7 linked regions of the Homo sapiens genome follow. The protein of the gene in region 3 interacts with the protein of the main gene of each other region in a pairwise test. Each region holds a gene or a part of one and is shown on either strand. Other genes may lie near its edges. The genes, in order: CISD2, SCN3B, RUSF1, ZCCHC12, SLC30A8, RETREG3 and CREB3L3.

Region 1 (3,500 bases), on a different chromosome or scaffold from region 3:
AGATTTTGTCAACTACTTATAGTACTTATCACTCCAAACTCCTTCCCACATTAAAAATCATCTATAATTGAGGCTATCATTTACTACCTCATATTATTAAAGCAGTTTACATATATCATCTCACTTCTCAAAGATATGTAATGTGGATGTATCAGGTTAAAACAAACCCTGAAGATTAGAGATTAAAAATTAAGTAACTTGTCCAACCAAACTCATACTGTGACAAGTATATTTGACCACTATTTACTATGACACCAAAGCTTTTTTCCATTAAACCTTAGGTCCTCTCTCAAAGAATGTGTATTTTAAAATACATGTTACTCTACATAAATGCCAAACATTGCGAAGGCATTAGATTTTTATTCTTCTTTGCTGCTCCAACTTTTCTAATGTAGGTAGTATCTATCATGACATGAAAACTTCAATTTAGGAATATGGTCTTTCAATACCAAATATTACAGAAAATTCTCTCATCTTAAAGAACTTCAAAACTGGGGATTTAAGAGGCGAAACAATCCTAGCACTGCAAAATTTTAGTGTACACGTAAACAGACATCTTACCGTTTTAGAACGCCAACACCTACAATAAGCTGCTTTAGTAAGACACAAATCTTCAATGTTTATTTCATTCACTACTTTCGGATTTTCCTTTTGTATTTTAAGATTAATCAAGCTATCCTTCTGTTGTTTCTTCTTCGGGAGGAATGGACGAACTGCAAGGTAGCCAAGAAGTGCGAGTACACCAAGGAAAGGCAATAACCGAAGCCATTCTGAAACTAAACATGTAGATGTGTCAGAATCTGCAGTGCTCTTGGAAAAGAATTCAAAATAGCATGTCTAGTTTCATCCTTGAGCTTATTCTTTGTTACTTTTTACATTAATTCCTTTTTAATGGATCCATAAAACTGTGAATAAATAACACAATAAAGCCAGCTCTACCAAAGACCACCTTACTTTATTTATAATTTGAGACCAGTGAAACTAGAAACCTAACTTTTCAGAAATAGGTTCCATTTCAAATATCCTATCTCATTGTCTACATCAAGTCTATTTGTGTTTGTCTATTTTTATTTTAGGAGTTATGATCACTATAACTATAAACAAAATTCAATGTATATTTTATAAGTTAAGAAAACATTTTATCTCCTTAATACTATGTCAAAATCATACAACAGAATATCTGCAGAATTTTTACCACTGATTCATAATATCAGAGAGAACATGTCCTCTGATGCTTTAAGGTACATTTTTGGTAAATGTTGCTAAAGAACACTGAAATTTTGTGTAAAAGCTACTATTTTAAAGAACAAATTGAAACCTTCTATGTTGAATGTTCTCATTTTAAGATATATCTAATTCCATAAACTTCATTTAAAGCCTTTTGGAGTACCTAGCCTGTCTTAAGGGGACAGGGAATATAAGTGATACAAATGAAACAGTCCCTATGCATGTGGACACAAAAATACCAGGAAACCAAGATAAACATTTCAACATACATTTATCAAATGTCTGCTAGCACCCTGCCTCTGCTGGGCTCTTTTCTGTTCTTATAGAATTACCAGTTAACTTCCTTCACTGAATGCCGAATCTGATACCTTGCTAGGCACTATGTGGAAATAGCTTAGTTGAGAAAAGAGAAAAACAGAAAATAATATGCTAACTCATGCTAATAAACATTAAAGATAAATGAACAGGTTATGCTAAGAGTATAAGGGCACTAGCTCATTTAACACTATGTTAGCTTAAACAACTATATGTGGTAGGTATCATTATTATCCCCATTTTACATGTGAGAAAACTGTAGCCTAAGCAGGTTTAGTCCAGGACACCCTAAATCCAAAGCCTGTTGTCAGTTATCATGAATCAAACCCAATAGATCTAAAATTAAAATCTGTGCCTATCTTGGTAAAACTACTCTCAGGAGATAATAGTACTATTTAACTATTGAAAGAAAGACAATATGAACTCTTCCAAAATGGAATTATTTTTGATATAACATCATGCCAAAGAAATCTAAATGAAAAAACCTATTTATCTACCATTTTCATAGATAGCACCTATAAGAGTGGCTGGCAAAAAAGACACAATAAATGGTAGCTTTTATTCAGAGATTATAGAGATTGGTGAGGAAGTACTAGCAACTCCTTTGAAAAAAATATTTTGCCAAATAACTTGACAATGCTATATGGGCAAAAATCTTCAGGAATATAATCTTGTAGTTACCAGAATAAAACTCTGTAAAAGTATGAACTTTGTCTGCCATGCTGGCTGTTACATTCTCATAACCAAAGTGGAGACACTCCAAATAGGTTCTTTGAGTGAATTAAAGCTCTGGAGATAACACAGAACTGTTTTTGCGGGGAGAAGGAGGCCTAGGTATAAGATCTGTGCTATTCAATATGGGCACCACTAGCCATACTGTTTAGATTTGTACCCAACAGACTTGTAGAAACTGTCTTGAAATAACAGTTTATTACTTATAGTTCCCAAGAGGAGAGGATACACTATGCAATGCAGGGCCACATGAGAGGTACTAGGGTTGATCAGGAGGAAGAAAGAGGAAAGGGAAAAAGCATGGGCACAGGCCTTTACTGTGGTTTCCATGGAAAAGGCAAGGCAGGAAACTGTTCAGGACTGGCTAGCTTGAATAATTTCAGTGGGTTCTGGGCAAAAGTAGTGGTCCCTAGTCGTCTCCTACCTGTCCCTGGGGTGACTTAGGGCAGGAGAAATATTGACTGGAGAAATACTGACTTCATGTGTAAGGGTTAGATAAAGGAGGTGGTTGGGGGCATGGGCTTTGGATTGGTTGGTTTGCATATGAAAGGCATGCTCACAGGCAAGTTATTTAGTATCTCTAGGAATTAAATTGTCTCCACAGCCAACAAGGCTCCTAAGATATTAAAGCATAATAAAATACAGAAAATTGAAAACACGGTTAATATACACATGTGGGCGTGGTGGCTCATGCCTATAATCCCAACACTTTGGGAGGCTGAGGAGGGCAGATCACGAGGTTAGGAGTTCAAGACCAGCCTGGCCAACATGGCGAAACCCCGTCTCTAATAAAAATACAAAAAATTATCCAGGCGTGGTGGCAGGCGCCTGTAATTCCAGCTACCTGGGAGGCTGAGGCAGGAGAATCGCTTGAATTCAGGAGGCAGGGGTTGCAGTGAGCCGAGATCATGCCATTGCACTCCAGCCTGGGTGACAAGAGCAAGACTCTGTCTCAAAAACAAAACAAAACAAAACAAACACATGTGGCTATTCACATGTAAATAAATTAAAATTAAGTAAAATGTAAAATGCTGTTTCTAAGACACACTGGTAACCTTTCAGAGGCTCAATAGCTAGCTACATGTGACTACTGACTACCATATTGAACAGTACAGAGAACATTTCCATTACCACAAAGTTTTACTGGACAATGCTACTATAGATCATTGGCTCTATAAGGTGCCATCTCCAAAGAATGGCAAGGCTACCTTTCCAGCTTCAACTTC
Region 2 (3,500 bases), on a different chromosome or scaffold from region 3:
GGTGACCAGGAGAGGGCGCCAGGGCCCCACCCCCCAGAGGAAAGGCGTGTAACAAACGGGGGATAAAGGAACTTCAGAACAGGGGAGTACCTCAGAGAGCCCCCCGCCAACCCCTTCATTTCACACCAGAGGAGCGGGGCTCCGAGCAGGGAAGTGACTCATCAGGTCTGGATTCAGGAGCCCTGAGAGTCCCTCTGCACTTTCAGAATTGACCTACCTTCCATTTTAGTCATATCGTCTGATCCGTTATGTCTCTTTCTCCTTTGTTCATTCACTCTGAGGACTGAATCTCCGCTTCATTATTTTTATCACAACGACATGATAAAAAATGAATAAACCTGTGGCCTGGAGGTTGGGATTCCTGGATCCTTTTTTCTAGGAAGAGCCCTGTCTTTAACTTGATCTTTTCCTTCATGCCCCACACTTTGGCCTGCTCACTAGCAGTGATAATGCTGGAGATAGACTGAGAAAGGCTGGAACTCCCCCCTCAGGATGCAGGACTCCGGTTGCAACAGAAACACCTGAGTTAGGCTGCTGAAAGGCCTTCCCACTCACGAACACGGAACTAGCTGTAGGAGTCCAAAGATTTTAAACAAGACTAGAGAGCTATCAACCTGTCCCCTTCTCCCAGCAGGGAATGAATTTATGTAATAAGAGATGCCACAGATGGGGAAGAGGTTGCACGTGTGATTACTGTGAAGAAAGACAAAAGAAAAAAAGATTGTCAAACTTTGGTTTAGAGAGAGGTTCTCAAGGTGTGGTCCCAGCAGCAGCACTGCCCGCCAGGCAGTGTGTCACGCAGTGCAAACTCTCAGGCTCCACCGACAAAAGCAGAAAGGCTGGCTTCCAAAAAGCCCTGCAGGAGATTTTGAGGTTTGCTAAAGTTTGAGAACCCCTGGCTTAGAGGCATGTATTGCTTACAGGTAGAAGGAGAGATGACTTCCGGGTAACCTCATGAGATTTCTCTGAGCCCACTGAGTCAGGGATTCAACATAGGCCAAAGAAGAAGGCCTAGCTGAATCAGTAGCTTTAGGCCTCATGGAGGCTAGCCTCTTTCTCTAAGGGACCAGGAAGAGCTCATTCTATCATCTCCAAGCCTTTCTGCTTTGAGGAAAGGCACAGAAAGACAAGCTGCTTAGGGAATTTACAGGAAGCTGGCCACCAGAAGAAGATGGGTCAATGGTGACATTTTTAGATGTCACCATTCCAAATACATGGGTTTTTGCACTCTTTAAGGGCCTCACTCGTGGAAAACTGCTGTCCTACCCTTCCCTGTCCACAGAGAGCAGGACGCCCTAGAGACCCTGTGCCTCAGCCTCACCCTCCTCGGTGACTCTTAGGGGGATCAGCCGCGTCGTCTTCACAAAGGGCCGATGCGCCTCAAACTCAAACTCCCGGGACACATTGCAGGTGTAGAGGCCAGAGTCGTTCAGAGTGACGTTGAGCACAGTGATGGACACGTCCTGCAGGTCCTTGCTGCCATTCCACTGCAGGCGCCCCTGAAAGGGGCTCTCCACCTCCTGGTGGCCATTCCGATACTCGTAAATCTGCAGATAGAGGAGCAGAAGAGGGTAGGGCCAGGAAAGGAGATGGCAGTGGGGGGAAGCCGAGTTAGGGACAGGGCAGAGAAAAGGAGCAGAATTGTGCATGGACAGGGAAGAGAGGGGACAATGCCACCGGGAGACCCAGAATGTGGGGGTGGGATGAAGAGGCACAGAGGAGGGTAGGGAAGGGAGCAAAGACAGGGAAGGACAGGCAGAGGCAGCAGGCATCAGGGCATGTGGACGTGGTGAGGACAGAGGCAGCCACGGGCGTGTAGGAAGAAGCTTGGCAGAAAAAAAGGGGTGGAAAGAGGGAGAACAAAGGCAGGCGGGAGAAGAGTATGGGAGCCCAGGAGACGGACATTGAGAGAAAGACAGGATTGTAAAAAGATAGAGAGAACAAGAGAGTAAGATGTGTCCCAGAGCCGCTGGCAAGAGAACAAGGTAGAGACAGCAAGACAGGCAGATTCATTAGTAATGAAGACATATGAAAGCCCTGGCTTTAAAACTGGACTCTCTGTGCTGGTACTCATCAGGGGCTGTAGGACAGTCTGGGCCAGGCCACAGGAAGGAGGCCCAGGATGCTGAAGCATGGCAGATGAGCAGAGAGCCATCACCAGAGAGGCACACGTCACATCTTTTGCTTTGGACTGAATTTTAACTAAAATATCATCTTTTAAATTTCTTTCCTCAACACTTCCACCCTCTGACATAACAGCCAAACTCATTTCTGACTCTAGCTTCTATGTGCCATTCTCTCTCTACAGCTGTGCTGGCTATTCTAGTCTCCACTAGCCACATGTAGCTACTTAAATTCAATTTCTTAGAAGTTAAATACAATGTAAAATTCAGTTCCTCAGTGGCACTGGCCACATTTCAATTATTCATAGCCACATGTGGCTGGTGGCCACTGTATCGCACAGCACAGATAGAGAAGGTTTCCACCATCACAAACATTTCTATGAGACAGCCTTGCTGTGGATTTCCATGGATGTTTTGCTGTTGCCGTTTTATTTTTCATTTTCTTCTTCTTCTGATCCACCTTTTCCTCACTTTGGGCAGGCCTGGAAGCAATGTGGGCAGCTATCACTGGTACATGACCAGGCCTGAAGGCCCTGGGGGCCTTTGCATCTGGCCAAGACATCCAGCCTCCTGCAGCTGGGGGCTAGCCTCAGTTGCAGCTTCATTGACGTGTCACTGTCACACCTGAGCCAGGCTCTGGGAAGTCTCCGCTGGTCCCAGTCTTAGTACCAGACGGTTGCAAATCTGCATCAGAATGGCACATAGAAGCTAGAGTTAGAAATGGGTTCGGCTTTAGGATAGTGAGAAAGAAGAGCAAGCTAAACCCAGTTTCGCCCTTCCATTGTCTCTGTTACAAATCTTTGTGGAGGAGAAACTTGCCCCCAGGAAGGCAAAGCAGTGCCGTAAAAAGGGCCTTGTATCTGCTGTTAGACCACCTGGCTCAAGTCAAAGCTGTCTTAGTTATTAACTTAACTTCTTTGAGCCTCAGTTTCCTCATTTCTGTGTCTATCTTTTCTCTAGCAAACATTTACCAGTGCTTACTATATTCCAGAAACTATTTTTAATGCATTAAAAATTATAGCTCATGAGTCCTGGTAACAGCCCTATAATTTGGCTATGCTTTATATCCCCACTTTAAAAATGAGGAAACCGAGGCACAGAAAGGATGACCAACATGTCCAAGGACACAGAGGTGATAATAAGTGTGAAGTCAAGAATCAAACCCAGGTGGCCTGGCTCCACAGTCAGTGAAGGAGTAAATAATGGTCATCTCCAAGGTGGTATTCAAAATATATGACAGCCGACCAGGCACGGTGGCTCACACCTGGAATCCCAGCACTTTGGGAGGCCGAGGTGGGTGGATCACCTGAGGTCAGGAGTTTGAGACCAGCCTGGCCAACATGGCAAAACTCTGTCTCTACTAAAAATACCAAAATT
Region 3 (3,500 bases):
AAGCCTAAATGCTACGAGCACCCCTAAACAGGGTAGGAAACCCCAGAGAAAAGCATGGCTGTAGCTATGGACCGAGGGTTGTGCCATCTGGCTTTTGCTTCAAACTCTGCCTTTGAGACTTCAGTCTCTTCATCTGTCCAACAAGGGAATGGAACAGGGCCATGAGCTTCCCTCTTAAGACCCCTCTCTAGAGTTCCCCTCTCCACAACCTCCATCTCCAGCTGCACCAAGAGAAGCCAGCCTGGCTGTCATCTATGCTGCCGCCACCACCACTGCCACCACCTCCTCCTCTTCCCCCTTCCCCTTATCTGTCACCTTCGGCTGAACCTTCAGTTCTGTTATTTTTCCCTCCTCAAAATCTCCAGTCCATTCTCTCCTCCATCTTCCTGTCACCACCTCTCACTGCTGAGAGAGCACCGTTGCTTCCCAGGTAGCCTCCGTGCCGCTCCTCTCTCAGAGCAGCCCAGTGATCCTTTCAAAGAGGAAAGCAATCAGGTCACTCTGCTGCTCCATTGCTCTTAGGGAAAGACCTTCACCAGGCTTGCCAGGCTCCGTGTGGTCAGGTCCCTGCCAGCCACTTCGCCCTCACTTTGTCCCTCGTTCCTCTGGCCTTTGAACAGACTGTTTCCTCTGCCTGCGTATTAACTTGTTTATTTGTTTATTATCTGTTGATCTGTATGCTCCATGAGGGCAGGGCCTGGGTCTGACTTGTATCACAGCACCTAAGTCTATGTCTGGCATCTAAAAGAGCCCTCAGCCAGGGGCGGTGGCTCACGCCTGTAATCCCAGCACTTTGGGAGGTTGGCGTGGGAAGATCTCTTGAGCCCAGGAGTTCCAGGCCCGCCTGGGCAACACAGGGAGACTCTGTCTGTATTCAAAAACTAAGGATAAATAAAAATAGTAATAAGTAAAAGAGCTTTGATGAACTCGGGATGATTGTGAGTGACCAGTGACCCTCCTTGATTAGCTTTATCCTGCGATCTCAGAGGGAGAGATCTGGGTACCCTGGGAGGTCAGGGCCATCAGTGTAGGTTTCGACAGCTTTAACTGGGGCAGGAGGAGAGTAGAGGAATTACAGGAGGCAGATGTAAGCATGAAGCTGGAAACCAGCCTGAGCCTCCCGCCAGTAATGGGGAGGGTATAGCCCAAGCAGGAGCTGGAGGGCTGGGAGTTCTGGGCTGAGAATGATCTTTGGGCCTCCACCTTGGGGAATGAAATTGAGCTTCTGTGAGGCCAGTCCCCAAGGTGATAGTGGCAGGTGGGACTCCAGTTTCCTAGAACAGGACAGGGAAGTTGAGCCTAGGGGGCATCAAGGTGAGAACTAGATGCCAAGGACAGCATTCAGAGTTTGGCCGGGGCCAGGTTTTCTCCAGCTGGTCTGAGTGCCTGTGTTACCAGGACACGTGTCTCTGCCAACCTTCTCTCTTCCCCTCCCACCCAGTGCATCGTGAGTGTTGCTGGTGGGGCCACTCGGGCTGCCCTGACCGTGCACCAGGCTCGGAGGAACAACATGGCTGACGTGTCAGCCAAGGACAGCAGCCAGGTGAGTGCCAGAGCTGGAGGGAGGGCGTGGAGTGGGGAGGGGAAGGGGAGAGAAGCCACTTGAGTGCCCTGGAGGGCCCAGGAACACACAGGAAGAAGTATGGGTGCTCCCTGCTGACTCAAGACACCCAGGCAGGAGTAGGGGTTTGGGCTCTGGTGGCGGCAAGTCCGAGCTGATCTCAGGCCCTGCCCGCCACCTGTGTGGCTGAGAGCAAGCCCTCAGCCTTGCCCTCTTCAGACCCCACCGTGCAAGCTGGATGTTCTGATCACATGAGGCCCCACATGTCAAGGCAATTGGCAAGTCAGAGTTACCCAGCATGTGGGGTTGCTGGGTCACTGGCTGGGGCCTCCACTCAGCAGTTTAGCAGGCCTGCTGGCCCAGCCCCCTTGCCCACCCTAGGGAGCCTGGAGTTGGGGTAGGGACACCCCTAAGGCTGAACTCCGCATGGATTAGACCTCTACAAACCCCGTGCTGAGTGCTTACGTGTACTGCATCACTTAACTCTCACGCCTGTCATCCTAGCACTTTGGGAGGCTGAGGTGGGAGGATCACTTGAGGCCAGGAGTTTGAAACCAGCCTGGGCAACCCGGCGAGACCCCATCTCTACATAATATATAAAAGAAACTTCAGCTAGGTGTGGTGGTGCACACCTGTAGTCCCAGCCTCGAGCTCAGGAGGTGGAGGCTGTGGTGAGCTAAGATCACCCCACTGCACTCCAGCCCAGGTGACAGAGCAAGACCCTGTCTCAAAAACAAACAAACTCTCACACCAACCCTTTGAGGTAGGTACTACTTTATCCCTAGTTTACAGATGAGGAAATTAAGGCCCAGGGAAGTCCCAGAAGTGTGAGATGGTTTTCTTTGACACTGAAGCAATTTAGAAACTGCTGTTCTGTGCATTCCTACTTTCTGGCCTTCTCTTCCATTGTTTGGCTCAATAATCTTAACCCAAGCTAATATTTATTAAGCACTAACCATGTGCCAAGTATTTTGGTTCTGGGAACTCTTTAAATTCTCACAGTGGGCATGTGCAGTAAATGCTCATGGTTGCCTTAGTACAGATGAAGAAATAAAGCATGGAGAGGTCCCATCTCCCTGGGGGCCCCTGGGGAAGTCCCTTCTCTCAGGATGCTCGGGCTTATTCCACCCATTGTCTCTTCTGAACCTAAGTCCACAGGCTGTTAAGGAGCAAGCAGGAAGCACAGCACAGGTCCCTCACCGCAGGACTCCCAGCTCCATGCCTGGTGTCCCTCTCCTGTTCTCTCGCTGGTCCCCAGACCTCCCCCTAACCCCAAGCCATTTTTCCCAAGACCCCAGGGCTTCCTCGGTCCACAGAGCCAGGGACATATCCGGGACTAACCTGGGAATGTGTCAGTCCCGCAGCAGACTCCAGCTTTCTGCCAGTGCAGCTTTGCTGTCACTGGATGTGGCCACTGGAAATGACTCTTCCCACCTGGGAGAGAGGAGCTCCTGAACTCCCCAGGTCCCTGATCCCCAGTTTCCTGCCACACCCACAGCGTTTATTCCCACAGCATATGCCCTTCCCAGGAGGGCTGGTTGAGAAGAGCTCTCCAGTCTCGGGTCCTCTCTATGCCAGGACCAGCTCTCCCTGGGAGCCCAGTAGTCAGGGGCACCAATCCAGACTCCTCCCTCATGATGAGTTGGGGGCAGGTAGCCTGGGGTCCCTTCCCCTAGAGTGATCTCAATCCAGCCATCAGAGTGTTCTCCTAACATTGATACACAAGGGAAGAGGTGTGGGTCTTGTTCCTTTTCTTCCCGGGTGGTTCCTTGACCCCTTTGCAAATCTATCTGCCAGTTACTGCATACCAAAGGAGCTTGGTGGGAGGGGAGCAGTCAACTTTTTAAAATCAGTAAATAAAAGTTATTCCAGCTCATGCCTGTTATCCCAGCACTTTGGGAAGCTGAGGTGGGGATTGCTTGAGCCCAGGAGTTCAAGA
Region 4 (4,201 bases), on a different chromosome or scaffold from region 3:
TCTCCCTCCAATGTGCTGGTATCCAAGACCCTTTCTACTCCACCCCAAAAGATAGCCGCTTTGTGGATTAATTCATGCAGTTAGAAGTCCCACCCCCACCCCCACCCCAGTTTTCCCACTACTGGATGCTGAATATAGGTAAGGGTTCACTGAAACCTGGGGGTGGTCCCTTACAGTGGCTCAGAGAAGTCATTGTATTCGCCAGGGGCCACTCTTGACCTCTCCATCTCAGTATGGGTCAGCTCCTGGAGAGTGATGATCAAATTCTCAAAAACCTGGGCCTTGTCACTCTCGTTGTCACAGGTTTCTTTTGAGTGGCCTTCCTCACCACAATACGAACAGCGGATTGTGTGTTTTCGCTTCCTGGCTCTACGCATCTCCCCAGGACCGTTATTCTTATAGCCAGAACCACCACTGGTGGAAGGAAACTGAGCCCTGGAATTGTGGGGGGAATCAATGACCAGCACTTCATCCTGAGGTCTGGCCCTGTCTCTGAGGGGAGGGGCACCCCAGGATGGAAGTGGAGGGTCCTGAGACTCCACCAGGATCACATCCTCATCGGAGTCGTCGAGGGTATCATCTATCTCTATCACATTGCAGTCAGCACTGCCGATCACTATCGGTGGGGAGCCCTGAAATGCCACAGGGCTGACTGCCCTCTCCACCATTGACTCAGACCTTTTTGGACGCTTCCGTTTAATAAAAGCATCATCCCAATCCTCTTCCTCCCTTACCATTCTGATTAACTCCAGAAAGTTGGGAAGCCGCTCCTGCTCATTTGCATACATCCTGAGAAAATCCTTAAGTCTGAGTCGGAGGTCCCTACTCAGCTCACCGCCTAAAAGGAGCTGCTGCAAGCGAGTCCGGTTTGCATCTTTCTCAGCTATAATGCCTGCCTGAATAGCGTTCTGGAGCTGCACCTCTAAACGGATCACATAAAGGGAGGCTTTCTCCCCTTGAGCTTGTAGGGTGTTAAAAAATTTACCATGGGCAGTCACACTGCTTTCAGACTCCCCAAACACCAATTTCATGGCTCGCAAGAAATCTGCCACACTTAGGTTAGGGTTGGTCGCCTGAAGCACACGCATGACCTCGCGGGCAGGGCCCCTAAGGGTTTTCATCAAGCGCTTGAGCTTTTCCTCCTCAGACATATTCCAATCTGGCAGGACGCCATTGACTTGGGTCAGCCAGTTTTCAAAGGTTTCTTCCCCTTGGGCTGGCACCACCCTCCCCGAGAACAACTTCATGTTTCTGTCTGCCATGCTGGCCATTATAGGACCGAGACTTCTCCCCAGGGACCTCAGCATGGAATGGGCCCAAGGCGGCAAGGGTGCATTCAGCCGCCGGCTGTTACCGACACGTGCAATGATGCTAGCCATGACTGACGACGATAGGGTATCTGAATATAAGAAGATGCCTAGGCTTTTTAGAAAAGCTTAATCTGCAGGTGGGAGAGGAGAGGAGGTGGCTCTGCCTTCCTATCTCAGCAGGGGCTGTAAAAAAGAAAGGGGGGCTGGTTAATAAGGGAGCGGGCTGCAGCTGCATTCTCTTCCTACCTGAATATCCTGCAGTACATTTTATATTTGCCCACTACCCTAAAAATAATCCTGTAGGAGATTGACACTTACAACCTCCCAGAGCTACCCGATGCCTGCGTGCTAGCAAGGTGCTTTTTGCAGCCACATCCATCCCTCCCACCAGTCCTCCAAGAGGGACGGTAACTGTTGCTTCAAATTCTAGGTGTAGCAGTGTCTGGAGCTGATATTGGGCTCTCCAAATAGAGTACAATGATCGCAGATTTGTGGAAATAAAATAAGATCTCATTAACCTCATGGTCTCTGGTCTCAACCACACCCCCTTCTCAAAGTGCCCCCCACGCCCGTCCCCCTTGTTATTTCTCAGATTCTTACACGAACTCTGAAACAAGAGCGCGTCTTTATTTCACTTCCAGCCTCTGCAACCAGTGCCCTCCGTGAGAAAGCTCCTCTCCGGGGTACGGTCAACCTCTGTCCACAGGGGGTCGCAGATCCGGGTCCTTGAGGTTTCAAGATTGCGCCACAGCGGAGAAGGCCAGAGAAGGGAAGGGTTAGAAGCAGCTTCACCCGTCATCCTGCTACCCACCACCTCCGCTGTTGCCAGGCGAAAAATTCTCTCTGCCCCCTCCTGACTATAAGCCAGAGACCAGCCCCCCACCCTCCAGCATTACATTTCCCCCGGGAAGCCGTCGGCCTACCAGCTCTGCAATCAGCTGCACAGAATTCAAGTTCAGATGCGGCTTTGATGGCCTGCCACGGAGAAAGGGAATAGGAGTTGGACACACCCACCCACATATTCCTCCCAGAAAGAGATGAGGAGATGCAAAGGATGTTCGAAGCAAACAGCTCGAGATTCCTCCCCCCGCTACTCCTCGCCTCTCCTCCCACCCCCAAATCCAGGCAAATCCTACCTAGCCCGCAGTATCCAGGTGAACCCCACCTCCTCCCTCAGCGCAGCCGGGCCACGAGAGTACTCCTACCCCTGCCTCACAGTCACCGATTCTCCAAGCTGGGAGCCGCCCAGTACTGGTGGGTCTTCCCCCACCCCTCTCCCCGCCGGGCAATCACACCCCCATTCTTTACCTGTGCTCCGCTGGTGGACAGCAGATGCTCCCGCGTCGCCAGCTGTGGATTCCGCCTTCTGGTCTCCGCCTTGCAGGCGGCAAAGAACTGAAGCCTCCTTGGCCGCTAAGCGACCCGGGGCTGCCCGAAGGAGCTGCTTCGCAGGGCCGCCCAACCAGGGGTAGCAGAGACGAGGCAGCGCCGTTCCTAAGGCAGCCGCGGCGGCTTTTATCCTCTGCCAGCTGAGACAAAAGAGCGTGACGAGCGGGCTAGTGCGGCCAATCAGCGAAGTGCGGGGGCGGACGCCCCGCACAGCCTTGGGCAGAGGCGAGTTTTCGCCTGAGGGGGCGGGGGCGCAGCAGGCCCGCGGAGCGTCAAGTGCAGCTTGATTAGACCGATGGAGCCAATCTGCCTGGGAATTTGCGACTCTTTCTTCCTCCCCCAACCCGTCCCTTCTCCCTGGGCTCAACTCTGCATCTTAGGCCAGGTGCATTAAACACGAAGTGGGTCCAAAATCAAGTGAATAATAAAAGTTCTTCACCTTGGTATAGGGAAAAGACGGGGAAGAGGGGAAGGGGCGGGAAGAGCATTAGCACGTGCATTGCGGAAACAGGCTTTCACACACATCTCCTCTTTTACTGTGAAAGAAGTAGCAGTATGTCCATTTAACAGAGAGGAGAGCTGGAGAACAAGGCTCTCAACCAATACCCATTCAAGTATGGGGGCAAGACATCAGAGTCATTTGGGGGAGCTTGTTAGAAATGCAGTCTTCTGGCCGGGAATGGTGGCTCACGCCTGAAATCCCAGCACTTTGGGAGGCCGAGGCGGGCGGCTCACGAGGTCAAGAGATCGAGACCATCCTGGCCAACATGTTGAAACCCCGTCTCTACTAAAAAGACAAAAAAAAAAAAAAAAATCAGCTGGGCATGATGGCGCGTGCCTGTAATCCCAGCTACTTGGGAGGCTGAGGCTAGAGAATCTCTCCAACCTGGGAGGCGGAGGTTGCAGTGAACCAAGATCGCACCGCTGCACTTCAGCCTGGCAAGGGAACAAGACTCCCTCTCAAAAAAAAAAAAAAAAAAAAAAAAAAAAAAAAAAAAAGGAAAAGAAAAGAAATGTAGGCTCTGGGCCCCAACTCTGGTGGATTCAGATTTACTAGGACTAGCGGTTGTGATGTGGTTTTGTATTTAGTATTTTTAACCGGCGCTGCGGTTGGTTCTGAGTTGTAGCAAGGTTTGTGAATAAGTAAATGAGCCTGTCTCCAATATCTGTCCACAGGTATCTGTGGTGAAATGCAACTCCAGAGCAGATGTGCCTACCTGGAATCCATGATCTTCCTGAAATTGTATGCAAAGATTTCGGACTCTGTATGAAGCTAAATAATGGCCACCCAAATGTATCAAGTCCTAATCCCTGAAACCTGTAAATGTTACCTTATAAAGTAAAATGGTCTTTGCAGGTGTGATTAAGTTAAGGCTTTTTGACTTAATTTTCCAGGCAGGCTGAAATCTAAACCACAAGTGCCCTTATAAAAGAGGGAGAGTTGGTGCACCAAGAAGAGAAGGCAATGACCAGAGATTAGTGATGTGGCCATAAGCAGAGGA
Region 5 (4,220 bases), on a different chromosome or scaffold from region 3:
GCATCTTGAGAACACATAGGTAAATTTGAACTCAGGAAAGTCTTACTAGAAATCAGTGGAAGGGACAAATAGTCACAAAATTTTACCAAAACATTAGAAACAAAAAATAAGGAGAGCCAAGTCAGGAATAAAAGTGACTCTGTATGCTAACGCCACATTAGAACTTGGTTCTCTCACCAAGCTGTAATGTGATTTTTTTTTCTACTCTGAATTGGAAATATGTATGAATATACAGAGAAGTGCTTACAACTAATTTTTATTTACTTGTCACATTTTGGCAATAAATCCCTCTTATTTCTAAATTCTAACTTGTTTATTTCAAAACTTTATATAATCACTGTTCAAAAGGAAATATTTTCACCTACCAGAGTGCTTAAACACTGGCACCAGCCAAAGAATGTGGTTGTAGAGACCCAGAAGTCTTCAAGAACAGCCGACAAAAACATTCGAGTTGACCCCACCAAGTTGTTGCCACAGATAATTTAGATATTTACCTGCAAGAAGGAATAAAGCAGATGCAACCAATTCATTCAGTCCACGAGCATGATGTGAGCACTGCTTTGTGCTAGACATTGGGCTTAGCATTGAAACTATAAAGAGGAATCAGACGCAGCAAGTGCTTCTGTGTTCTGGTAGCAACTCAACACTATCTGTGGAGAGTAAACTGAAGATGTGCAGGCCAACATTCTGGAAATCCTATGTCAATGGGTTTGGTTTGGAACCTGGACTTCTGCATTTTTAAAAGTTACCCAGAGATGCTTCTAAAGATGAGCCATAGTCTAGAAGATTGTCAACCACAGGAGTTCATTGAGTGGGACAGCTAGACACATACATTGGCAGCTACAATAGTATCATGAATTGCAATGATGTAGTGGGGTATAAAAGGAAAGCGATGGATATTGCCGGATGGGCATGGCCAGTGATGTTTCACGTCATTGAGGTGACAGCTCTGCTGGACTTTGAATTACATATGGAGGCTCTCCAGGAAGACGAAGAAGAGAAGGACATTCTAGGCAAAAAGAAGACTAGGCACAAGGCACACTTATGTTTGTCTGTTAGCTTTTAGTTGAAAAAGCAAAATACATGATGCAAAGAAACCTCTCCACGCTGTGATTTTTAAAACTACATACTTTTTGCAACTTTATGGTTATGAGTATTGTAGAGAACAGGAGATAGGTCTTAGATGATTTTTATGTTGTTGTCAGACTCTAGCAAGGTACTAGAAACCTAGCAGGCATTAATAATTGTTGAGGCAATGACTCTGAGGCTATATCTGGGCCTTGTCATTATTTATCATTTATATTTGTATTTTTTTCTGAAATTTGAGGGCCAAGAAAACATTGACTTTGACTGAGGAGGTCACATCTGTGCCATCTCTGCAAATCAATCAGCACCACTGAAATAACTACTTAGCATTCTGCTGAGCTTTCCCTGCTCAGTAGAGACAAATATACTCATCCCCCACCTCAGTGAGCTTGTTTAGGCAACCAGGATTAGAGCTGCTCAGGTTCCCAACGTCTCCTGCCACATCGGGTTCTCAAAATGGAAAGAATGGTTTATGCCAAATCACTTTTCCTGTCTGAAGGACCACTGAATGGTTTTGTTTTTCCATATTTTGCATAGGACGCCCTAAAGACTAGGTGACTTGGCAAACACACAAGTGTTAGTATAATTCTTTGCTTCTGCTTCTTTTTGAAAATCATGTTTAGATTTGATTTTAAGTCAGAAATTCACTGAATGTCAGGTAATCATTATGGAGGGAGATTTGTGTGTCAACCAAAGTAATTGTCCCATGGCCCCAGGGTATTTCTGTTGTTTCCCTGAAATTCTGCTTTTTTAGTCAGCTAGATTGAAAACTCTGAACAGTAGATGTTTATATGGCAAAATGCAAGACAATCTACAAGGGAGATTTTAAGGATTTTGAGATGAAAAAACAGATGCTACTCAGGGGCTTTATGAACCATCCATCAATTCTGAAGTTCTGACTCTCCCATTACCCTTTCCCTGGTGTGGTCAGAACTCCAGGTCACTGGAAGTTAGTGGAATCATGTAGTTGAATTCTTTACTTCAAGACATTGTATTCTCTCCAGCTATCAAAACATTAATGATCTTTTATGTCTTTTTTTTGTTATTGTTATACTTTAAGTTCTGGGGTACATGTGCGGAACATGTAGGTTTGTTACATAGGTATACATGTGCCATGGTGGTTTGCTGCACTCATCAACCTGTCATCTACATTCTTTTATGTCTGTCTTTCAAAGCAACACTCTGTTCTTCTGAGTAGTGAAATCAGGTCAACTTTACCACCAGCCTCCATTTTTAATATGCTTCACCATCATCCAGCACCTACTTAAGATTTATCTAGGGCTCTGTGGTGATGTTAGGACCCATAAAAGAAATTTATGCCTTCCATATGTTTGGTTACAGATGGGAAATGGGAATGTTGAAGGACATGAAAGAAAGGATGTTTACACATTAAGCATCAGTTCTGAAGCTAGATTGTCTGAGTTTGAATCTTAGCTCTTCCCTTTATTAGCTCTGTGACCTCGAGCTAGTTACTTAAATGCTCTGATCCTCTATTTCCTGATCAGTGAAACCTCCCTATTCAAATGTGTGAGAGTTTAATAAATTAGGACACTTAAAAATGTTGGAGCAGTGCATAGCATGTAGTGTTCAGTACATGTTAAATGTTGTTTTTTATTATGTACAAACATGAGTGGGCACAGAATTTTAAATCATCTCAACTTTTGAGAAATTTTGAGTTATCAACACCGTTCCCACAAGACAGTGGCAAAATTATTGGTGAGAATTAAACAGCTGTTTCTCAGAGGAAGCAATGGAGGCTTGCTGGGATAAAGGCATTTACTGAGAGGCTGTTACCTAGTGAGAGTGATGAATTAATTAAAATAGTCGAATCCCTTTCTGACTGTCTCTGAAAGCTTCCGCTTTTATCTTTGAAGAGCAGAATTGTCACTCCAAGGACATTTATTAATAAAAAGAACAACTGTCCAGTGCAATGAAGGCAAAGTCATAGGTCTCCCAAGTCTTACCCCATTCCTGTGAAATATCAAGTTCTTGGCTTTTCTCTGTCATGTAGCCTCAACTTTCTCTGACCGGGTGCATTTCTTTCTCTGGTTTCTAAATTGCCAGTGGCAAATTTGGATCACTTACTTAATATCTGTTAAATTTTGTGACCCAACAAAGTCTTTTAGCACTGTGGTGTCAAAAAGAAAAACACCTCCCAGGCATATACATTTTATAGATTCCTGGAGAATGTTGCTCTCCAGCTCCATCCCCACCCAATGAAATATGATCCAGAGAGTCTTGCAAAGAGACAAGCCTCATTTTCCACAATTAGCTCTAAAGTGCCTCCAGGAAATGATTTTCTCAGCTCATCTCTCTGTATTCCCTGTTTTGGATCACAGGGCAATCTGTTTAAATGACTAATTACAGAAATCATTAAAGGCACCAAGCAAATGTCATCTCTGAATACACACATCCCAAGCTTTACAAATCCTGCCTGGCTTGACAGTGATGAGGCCACTTAACAGTCCAGCGCAGGCGGATGTTAAAAAAAATAAAAAGGTGACCATCTGCGGTTTAGTTTTTTAACTTTCTGATTTCACACTTAACGTCTGTCATTCTGTTACTGGGCACCTGTTTAAATTCTATTTTAAAATGTTAATGTGTGTTGTTTAAAATAAAATCAAGAAAGAGAGAGTTTGGGTTAAGTCATCATCTTTTTATCACCAAAATCATGGCAGGACATGTTTTTCATGACACCAGTGAGGACTGTAATGAGAATACACTCTTTCACTCTCAGTCATTTATTGGAAGAGATATAACTCATTTGGGGAACATACTTGTCTAAGAGAGATGGAAGATAATGTGTTAGAATCAGGGGTGCTTTTGAAATCATTCTGGTCATGGGCATAAAACCCCAGTGGAGGAAGAAGATGGTGGTCAGAGGTGGTAGGAGCCCTTGACGGTTGTAAAAAAGGAACTTGTGCTTCTTCAACCATAAAGCCAGGAAGTGATGAGAGATGTCAAGCTGAATTGCACCCCTTTCAGAAGTGTCAATCAAGTCCTGGAGACAATGTATCATTATAATTGCCCTATATTTCCTTTCTTCAAAGGGGTACCCATTTGTTAAAAACACGATTATCCTATTTACAGCCATTAAAACCCTATGGTTGTTATACACAGTCCAATAGTACTAT
Region 6 (3,500 bases), on a different chromosome or scaffold from region 3:
TTGAACTCCTGACTTCAGGTGATCCACCCACCATAGCCTCCCTAAAGTGCTGGAATTACAGGTGTGAGCCACCACACCCAGCCTGCCTGTTCTCTTTAAAAAGAGACCCAGAGCTAGGTGTAGTGATGCTCACTTATAGTTCTGCCTCCTTGGGGGGCTGAGGCAGGAGGATCACTTGAGCCCAGGAGTTCAAGTCCATCCTGGGAAACACAGTGAGACCCTGTCTCTAACCAAAAAAAAAAAAAAATGGGGAGACCCATTATCTACCTGAATGATGTATAAGTCTTTTGAGATTCACCAGCCATTAGATAGGCAGATGAACTACACGATTCCTTGAAGTCTCTATAAAATATGATGGGCATGTATTTAAAACCTGTATACTCTGGTTTGAATATCTTGCCAACACTTCAAAATTAACCTGCCTAAAATCTACATCAGTTTTCCTCTCTCACCCCTTCAAACCAACTTTCCTGTCTGCCTTTGCCTGCTAAGTGTAATGCCATTCTGCCACTCTCTTAGCTTTAACCCCCATCCACTTATGTCTTTTATTATACATATATAACAATTATTATTTTCTGAGACAGGTGTCGCCCTGTTGTCTTGGCTGGAGTACAGTGGTGCGATCACGGCTCACTGCAGCCTCAACCTCCAGGGCTCAAGGGATCTTCCCACTTCAGCCTCCCAAGTAGCTGGGGACCACAGGTGCACACCACCATGCCTGGGTAATTTTTTTATTTTTTGTAGAGACAAGGTTTCGCCACGTTGTCCAGGCCGGTCTCAAATTCCTTGGCTCAAGCAATTCTCCTGCCTTGGCCTCCCAAAGTGCTGAGATCACAGGCATGATCCACTGCACCTGGCCCCAACTATTTATGTCTTGATCTTCCTTATTCACAGCTCTCCAGGCCATCCATCATTTGTATTCACTGAGGCCTCTCTGACTACTTCTCACAAAGACACTGCCACAGTCTCCTAACAGGTCATCCTGTTCCACTTTTCCTCCTTCCATGTGGTCCTAAAAATGCTACTAAATTAATCTTTATTATCGGCTGGGCGTGGTGGCCCACGCAGGTAATCCCAGCACTTTGGAAGGCCAAGGCACGCGGATCACTTGAGGTCAGGAGTTCAAGACCAGCCTGGCCAACATGGCGAAACCCCATTTCTACTAAAAATACCAAAAAAATTAGCTGGGCGTAGTGGTGCACGCCTGTCGTCCCAGCTACTCAGGAGACTGAGGCAGGAGAATCATCTGAACCTGGGAGGTGGAGGTTGCAGCGAGCCAAGATCGCGCCACTGCACTCCAGCCTGAGCAACAAAGTGAGATTCTGTCTCAAAAAAAATTTTTTTTACTTAGCTGGGTGTGGTGGTATGCACCTGTAGTCCCAGCTAATTGGGAGACTGAGGTGGGAGGATCACTTAAGCCCAGGGATTTGAGGTTGCAGTGAGCTATGATCATGCCACTGTACTCCAAAACCTGGACAACACAGTGAGACCTAGTTTGTTAAAAAATAAGAATAGGGCTGGGCGCGGTGACTCACGTCTGTAATCCCAGTACTTTGGAAGGCTGAGGCGGGCAGATCATCTGAGGTTGGGAGTTCAAGACCAGCCTGACCAACATGGAGAAACCCCATCTATAGAAAAAATACAAAAATTAGCTGGACATGGTGGCAAGTGCCTATAGTCCCAGCTGCTCAGGTGGCTAAGGTGGGAGAATTGCTGGAGCCCGGAAGGTTGAGGCCACAGTGAGCCATGATTGCGCCACTGCACTCCAGCCTGGGTGACAGACCAAGACTCTGTCTGAAAAAAAAGAATGCGCCAGGTGCGGTGCCTCACGCCTGTAATCCCAGCACTTTGGGAGGCCTAGGCGGGTGGATCACCTGAGGTCAGAAGTTCGAGACCAGCCTGGCCAACATGGTAAAACCCCGTCTCTAACAAAAATACAAAAATTAGCCAGGCATGGTGGTGCGTGCCTGTAATCCCAGCTACTAGCAGGGCTGAAGCAGGAGGATCACTTGAACCTGGGAGGCGGAGGTTGCAGTGAGCCAAGATCATGCCACTGCAGTCCAGCCTGGCCAACAGAGTGAGACTCCGTCTCAAAAGAAAAGAAAAGAAAAGAAACCAACAAAAAACCTAATCCCAACATACTTTCAGTTTTATTTCCTAGCACTCCCTTTAATGAACCTTCATCCTGGCCATATGATCAATTCTCTGATGTCAGGAAATGCTTTGCAACTTCTGGTTCCTCAGACTAATCAAGCCACTGGACTCTCTAGAAACAGACTTTTTTCTCAATCTGTTCAAATCTTTTGCTTTGTTCCACTCTCAGGCTAGGGAAAAAATACATGCTAAGTATACTAATCACATACTGCACTGTGACATCTGTGGTGCTGGTCTATAATTGTCACTTAATTTTTCATTTGTTTATGTATGTATTAGCTTTTTAAAAAGACACCACATGTCATGGTACTTTCTTTTTTTTTTTTTTTGAGACTGAGTTTTGCTCTTGTCACCGAGGCTGGAGTGCAGTGGCACGATCTCGGCTCACTGCAACCTCCGCCTCCCAGGTTCAAGTGATTCTCCTGCCTCAGCCTCCTTAGTGGCTGAGATTACAGGTATGCATCACCATGCCCAGCTAATTTTTTGTATTTTTATTAGACGGGGTTTCATCATGTTGGCCAGGCTGGGCTCGAACTCCTGACCTCAGGTGATCCACCCGCCTCGGACTCCCAAAGTGCAGGGGTTACTAATAGGCGTTAGCCACTGCGCCCGGCCATCATGGTACTTTCTATAAGTCACAATTGCCTAGCCTAGTGTTTTGCAAATGAGCAATGTAAAAGGAATTCCTGAGAGGTACTGCCTCAATAAAGATGCAGTGTCCAATAACGATAATTTATTATTTTTCATTTGAGGACTACTTATTCCTCAGGCCATTATGTTGGCAAAAATAACTCAGGTGGTGAGTACAGATTTCCTGTGCTTAGTAACAATGGGAAGGGCAGAACCCAGCTCTAAGGAACCATAATTGGGGCACAAGCCCTTCAAGTGCCTCCTAAAGCAAATGATTCAGACTTCAAAAGACAGTCCCCAGCTCCATACACCTCCTCATAAACCCCTAATACTAAAGGTACAAATTATAGGAAAGGCCATCTTCAGTTCAGATTGTTCTAAATGCTACCAAACTCACCTTTTATTTCAGGCCAGATTTTGTTCTTCCATTGATCAATACACACAATGATCATCAAGCCAAATGCAAGTAAAAACACAAGACGAAGAGATGTCAGGGCAAAAAACCTACAGAGGAAGAAAAACAGAAGAAAGATCATTTACCTAGTTATCCTAATTTCAGAAAAGGCCACGTGTGTACGATGGGCTCTGTGGTAAACAGACTTGAGGTCTAGCTTTTTTTGTTCTGACACTTAACTAGTTATACACCTAGGGTAAATCATTTAAACCTTCTGGACCTTAACTACTCTACCTATGGGGCAGAGAAAATAATTTGCTGC
Region 7 (3,500 bases), on a different chromosome or scaffold from region 3:
ATAGATGGGGTTTCACCATGTTGCCCAGGCTGGTCTCAAACTCCTGAGCTCAAGCGATCTGCCTGCCTTGGCCTCCCAAAGTGCTGGGATTACAGGTGTGAACCACCACACTCAGCCAGTTTTAGCTTTTAGTTGTTGTTGCTATTGTTACTACTAAGTACTACAGAGGAAGACACCCCAGCCCAGGCGACAGTGAGCCCAGGACTGGAATGGTCTCTAACTGTGGGCAAATTCCACGCCTTTCTGTGACTCAGTTTTCCAGTCTCTGAAACGGGGATATTTAGGCTCCTCGAACCCGAGCAGCCCTCCCAGCTCCAACGCCCCATGGGAGGGTGTGGGGGTGCTCACCAGGTCCCCACTGCTGCCCGAAAGGAGGAGGTCTTTCACGGTGAGATTGCATCGTGGGGACAGGTCCACCGGATCAGCCGGCTTCTCAGCACAGATCCTTCCTCCTGGGCTCCACATTTCTGACCAGGGCAGGTGGGGACGGAGACAGGGAGAGTGTCAGACGGGGGGAGTCCTGAGCTTCCAGCCTCTAACCGCCTCCTCCACCAAGTCTCCCATGATTAATCCCAACATTCATATGACTTCTGCCAGAGTTTGGAGTCCCCAAGGCCTGAGTTGAAGGGGGCAGCCCTCACTAGTGACTCGGTCTCCCCTCTGCTATAAGATGGGAACCCAGCCAGTCATGGTGGCTCACGCCTGTATTCCCAGCACTTTGGGAGGCCAAGGCAGGCGGATCATCTGAGGTTAGGAGTTCAAGACCAGCCTGGCCAACATGGTGAAATCCCATCTCTATTAAAAATACAAAAATTAGCCGGGCCTGGTGGCGTGCACCTGTAATCCCAGCTGCTCGGGAGGCTGAGGCAGGAGAATCACTTGAACCCGGGTGGTGGACGTTACAGTGAGCTGAGAATGTGGCACTGCCCTCCAGCCTGGGTGACACAGCGAGACTCCATCTCAAAAAAAAAAAAAAGATGGGGACCCAAATTCAACAGGGCTTGGTTCTGTCCGTCCCACAAGGCTGAGGAAGACACAGGACATTGTCAGGAGACACCGGCTGATTCAAAAGGGAGTGGCTGTTATCACACAGAATTACAGGCTAGATTTGCAGCCAGCCAGGCGTTATCTCACCCAAGGGGCAGGGACGAGGTCTGATTCACCTCTGGTTGTCCCCTCCTGGTAGCCGGCATGCAGTAGGCATGCTGTCCCAGCACACAAACTTTGGGTCAGGTAACCCTTGGTTCTAATCCTGGTTGGGCAGGGCTGTGTGACCTTGAGTAAGTGACTTCACCTCTCTGAGCCTCAGATTTTTTTTTTTTTTTTTTTTTGAGACGGAGTCTCGCTCTGTCGCCAGGCTGGAGAGCAGTGTGGCAATCTTGGCTCACCGCAACCTCCACCTCCCAGGTTCAAGAGATTCTCCTGCCTTAGCCTCCCGAGTAGCTGAGACTACAGGCGCCTGCCACCACACCCAGCTAATTTTTGTATTTTTAGTAGAGACAGAGGTTTCACCATGTTGGCCAGGATGGTCTCGATCTCTTGACCTCGTGATCCGCTCGCTTCGGCCTCCCAAAGTGCTGGGATTACAGGCGTGAACCACTGTGCCCAGCATTTTTTGTTTTTGGCTTTTTTTCGAGACAGAGTCTGGCTCTGTCAGCCAGGATGGAGTGCAGTGGCATGATCTCAGCTCACTGCAACCTCCGCCTCCCGGGTTCAGGTGATTCTCCTGCCTCAGGCTCCTGAGTAGCTGGGACTACAGGTGGCCCCCACCATGCCCGGCTAATTTTGTATTTTTAGTAGAGATGGGGTTTCACCATGTTGGCCAGGCTGGTCTTGAAGTCCTAACCTCAAGTGATCCGCCTGCCTCAGCCTCCCAAAGTGCTGGGATTACAGGCATGAGTCACCGCTCCGGGCCTGAGCCTCAGTTTTGTCAACTCTCCAATGGGACCAAGAAGAGCTCATAGCAAGGGTCAAGGGACAAAGGCCACCCAGAGGCCAAGTATCTCCAGCCAGGGCTCTGCCTGGCCCGCCGGGAATGCTTAATCAATAGAGTAAATCATTACTGATCTGCTGTTCCCCACGTCTAGGAGGAGCACCCTGGAACCTAGGACCTGGTAACCTCATGCACTTTTATTGAGCATCTACAGGCTGGGTGGAGCGGCTCACACCTGTAATCTCAGCACTTTGGGAGGCTGAGGTGGGCAGATCACCTGAGCTCAGGAGTTCAAGACCAGCCTGGCCAACATGGTGAAACCTCGTCTCTACTAAAAAATAAATATTAGCTGGGCATGGTGGCATATGCTTGTGATCCCAGCTACTCAGGAGGCTGAGGCAGGTGAATTGCTTGAACCTGGAAGGCAGAGGTTGCAGTGAGCCGAGATCGCGCCACTTTACTCCAGCCTGGGTGACAGAGTGAAACTCTGTCTCAAAAAATAAAAATAAATAAAAAATAAAAAAAAATCTACTAGGAACCAGGCACGGGGTACAGACACGTAGAAGGCAAGACCCTGACTTTGGGCTGTGCTTGTCAGCACCATGCCTGGTGCCTGAGCCACCTGCCGGGGTTGCATCCTAGCTCTGTGGTTTTAGCTCATTGCTCAACCTGACAGGACTGTTTCACGATCTGGAAAATGGGCTCCCAATAGCATCCACGTGAAAGCATGGAAACACCTAGCCAAGGGAGACACGTGTCCTGAGTTTGAGTCTGGGCCCAGCTCCAAATTGCTGTGTGACCTTGGACAAGATGCCAGCCCTCTCTGGGCCTCCATTTCCTCACTTACAGGAAGGGCCCTGGAACAAGGTGAGGGCGGTGGGCAGAGACACAGCAGGACTCACCCAGGTCTATGGTCACAGAGGCTTCAGGTACTTGGATCACTGGCCCTGGGGTTGTGGTGGAGCAAGAGTTGCCAGGATGATAGGAGAGGCAGGGCCCCTTGCCAGGCTGGGCAGGATGGCAGCCGGCGGGGGAGGTGGCTGGTCCGCTGCGTGGAGGGGTGTCCTGGGGGTCGGAGGGGAGGTCTTCGGAGATGCCACTATCACTGCCTTCGGGGGACCAGAGTGGGGAGCTGGGCAGTGAGTCTCCAGAGCCCAGGATGGAGCTGAGGAAGTCGTCAGAGTCGGGGTTTGGCAGGACCTGCTGGGGTGGACAGGGAGGGGTAGTAGGAATTAGGAAGTGCTCACTCTTTTTAGATTAGTGTGTGGCCCCAGGGAAACCAGTGACCCTCTTTGGGCCTTAGGTGTCCTTCCCTTCTCCAAGATGAGTTACTGCTTCTTCCTCCCGGGGCTGCTGAGGCTCAAACGCAGTAACATAGCATAAAAATCCCAGCCAGTGCCAGGTGCAGTGGCTCCTGCCTGTAATCCCAGCACTTTGGGAGGCCGAGGAGGGCGAATCACTTGAGGTCAGGAGTTCGAGATCCGCCTGGCCAACATGATGAAACCCCATTTCTTCTAAAAATACAAAAAGTAGCTGGGCGTGGTGGCGGGCATCTGTAGTCCCAGCT

What was found.
Region 1: the proteins of RUSF1 (region 3) and CISD2 interact in binary tests that used the Homo sapiens proteins (3 or more experiments, as listed by UniProt).
Region 2: the proteins of RUSF1 (region 3) and SCN3B interact in binary tests that used the Homo sapiens proteins (3 or more experiments, as listed by UniProt).
Region 4: the proteins of RUSF1 (region 3) and ZCCHC12 interact in binary tests that used the Homo sapiens proteins (3 or more experiments, as listed by UniProt).
Region 5: the proteins of RUSF1 (region 3) and SLC30A8 interact in binary tests that used the Homo sapiens proteins (3 or more experiments, as listed by UniProt).
Region 6: the proteins of RUSF1 (region 3) and RETREG3 interact in binary tests that used the Homo sapiens proteins (3 or more experiments, as listed by UniProt).
Region 7: the proteins of RUSF1 (region 3) and CREB3L3 interact in binary tests that used the Homo sapiens proteins (3 or more experiments, as listed by UniProt).

What each region holds. Positions count from the first base shown.
Region 1 is NC_000004.12:102,882,492-102,885,991, reverse strand, and holds part of CISD2 (CDGSH iron-sulfur domain-containing protein 2), read right to left. Parts: intron 944-3,500; exon of another isoform or gene 777-943; coding exon 562-776; intron 1-561. UniProt on the Homo sapiens protein: Regulator of autophagy that contributes to antagonize BECN1-mediated cellular autophagy at the endoplasmic reticulum.
Region 2 is NC_000011.10:123,641,125-123,644,624, forward strand, and holds part of SCN3B (sodium channel regulatory subunit beta-3 precursor), read right to left. Parts: intron 1,548-3,500; coding exon 1,322-1,547; intron 351-1,321; exon of another isoform or gene 1-350. UniProt on the Homo sapiens protein: Regulatory subunit of multiple voltage-gated sodium (Nav) channels directly mediating the depolarization of excitable membranes.
Region 3 is NC_000016.10:31,494,892-31,498,391, reverse strand, and holds part of RUSF1 (RUS family member 1), read left to right. Parts: intron 1-1,441; coding exon 1,442-1,543; intron 1,544-3,500.
Region 4 is NC_000023.11:118,822,423-118,826,623, reverse strand, and holds the start of ZCCHC12 (zinc finger CCHC domain-containing protein 12), read right to left. Parts: upstream 2,801-4,201; 5' UTR 2,619-2,800; intron 2,286-2,618; 5' UTR 2,234-2,285; intron 2,036-2,233; 5' UTR 1,911-2,035; intron 1,494-1,910; 5' UTR 1,380-1,493; coding exon 171-1,379; 3' UTR 1-170. UniProt on the Homo sapiens protein: Transcriptional coactivator in the bone morphogenetic protein (BMP)-signaling pathway. It positively modulates BMP signaling by interacting with SMAD1 and associating with CBP in the transcription complex.
Region 5 is NC_000008.11:117,172,995-117,177,214, forward strand, and holds the end of SLC30A8 (proton-coupled zinc antiporter SLC30A8), read left to right. Parts: 3' UTR 1-3,720; downstream 3,721-4,220. UniProt on the Homo sapiens protein: Proton-coupled zinc ion antiporter mediating the entry of zinc into the lumen of pancreatic beta cell secretory granules, thereby regulating insulin secretion.
Region 6 is NC_000017.11:42,588,875-42,592,374, forward strand, and holds part of RETREG3 (reticulophagy regulator 3), read right to left. Parts: intron 3,289-3,500; coding exon 3,182-3,288; intron 1-3,181. UniProt on the Homo sapiens protein: Endoplasmic reticulum (ER)-anchored autophagy regulator which exists in an inactive state under basal conditions but is activated following cellular stress.
Region 7 is NC_000019.10:4,156,631-4,160,130, reverse strand, and holds part of CREB3L3 (cyclic AMP-responsive element-binding protein 3-like protein 3), read right to left. Parts: intron 3,137-3,500; coding exon 2,836-3,136; intron 468-2,835; coding exon 349-467; intron 1-348. UniProt on the Homo sapiens protein: Transcription factor that may act during endoplasmic reticulum stress by activating unfolded protein response target genes. Activated in response to cAMP stimulation. In vitro, binds to the cAMP response element (CRE) and box-B element.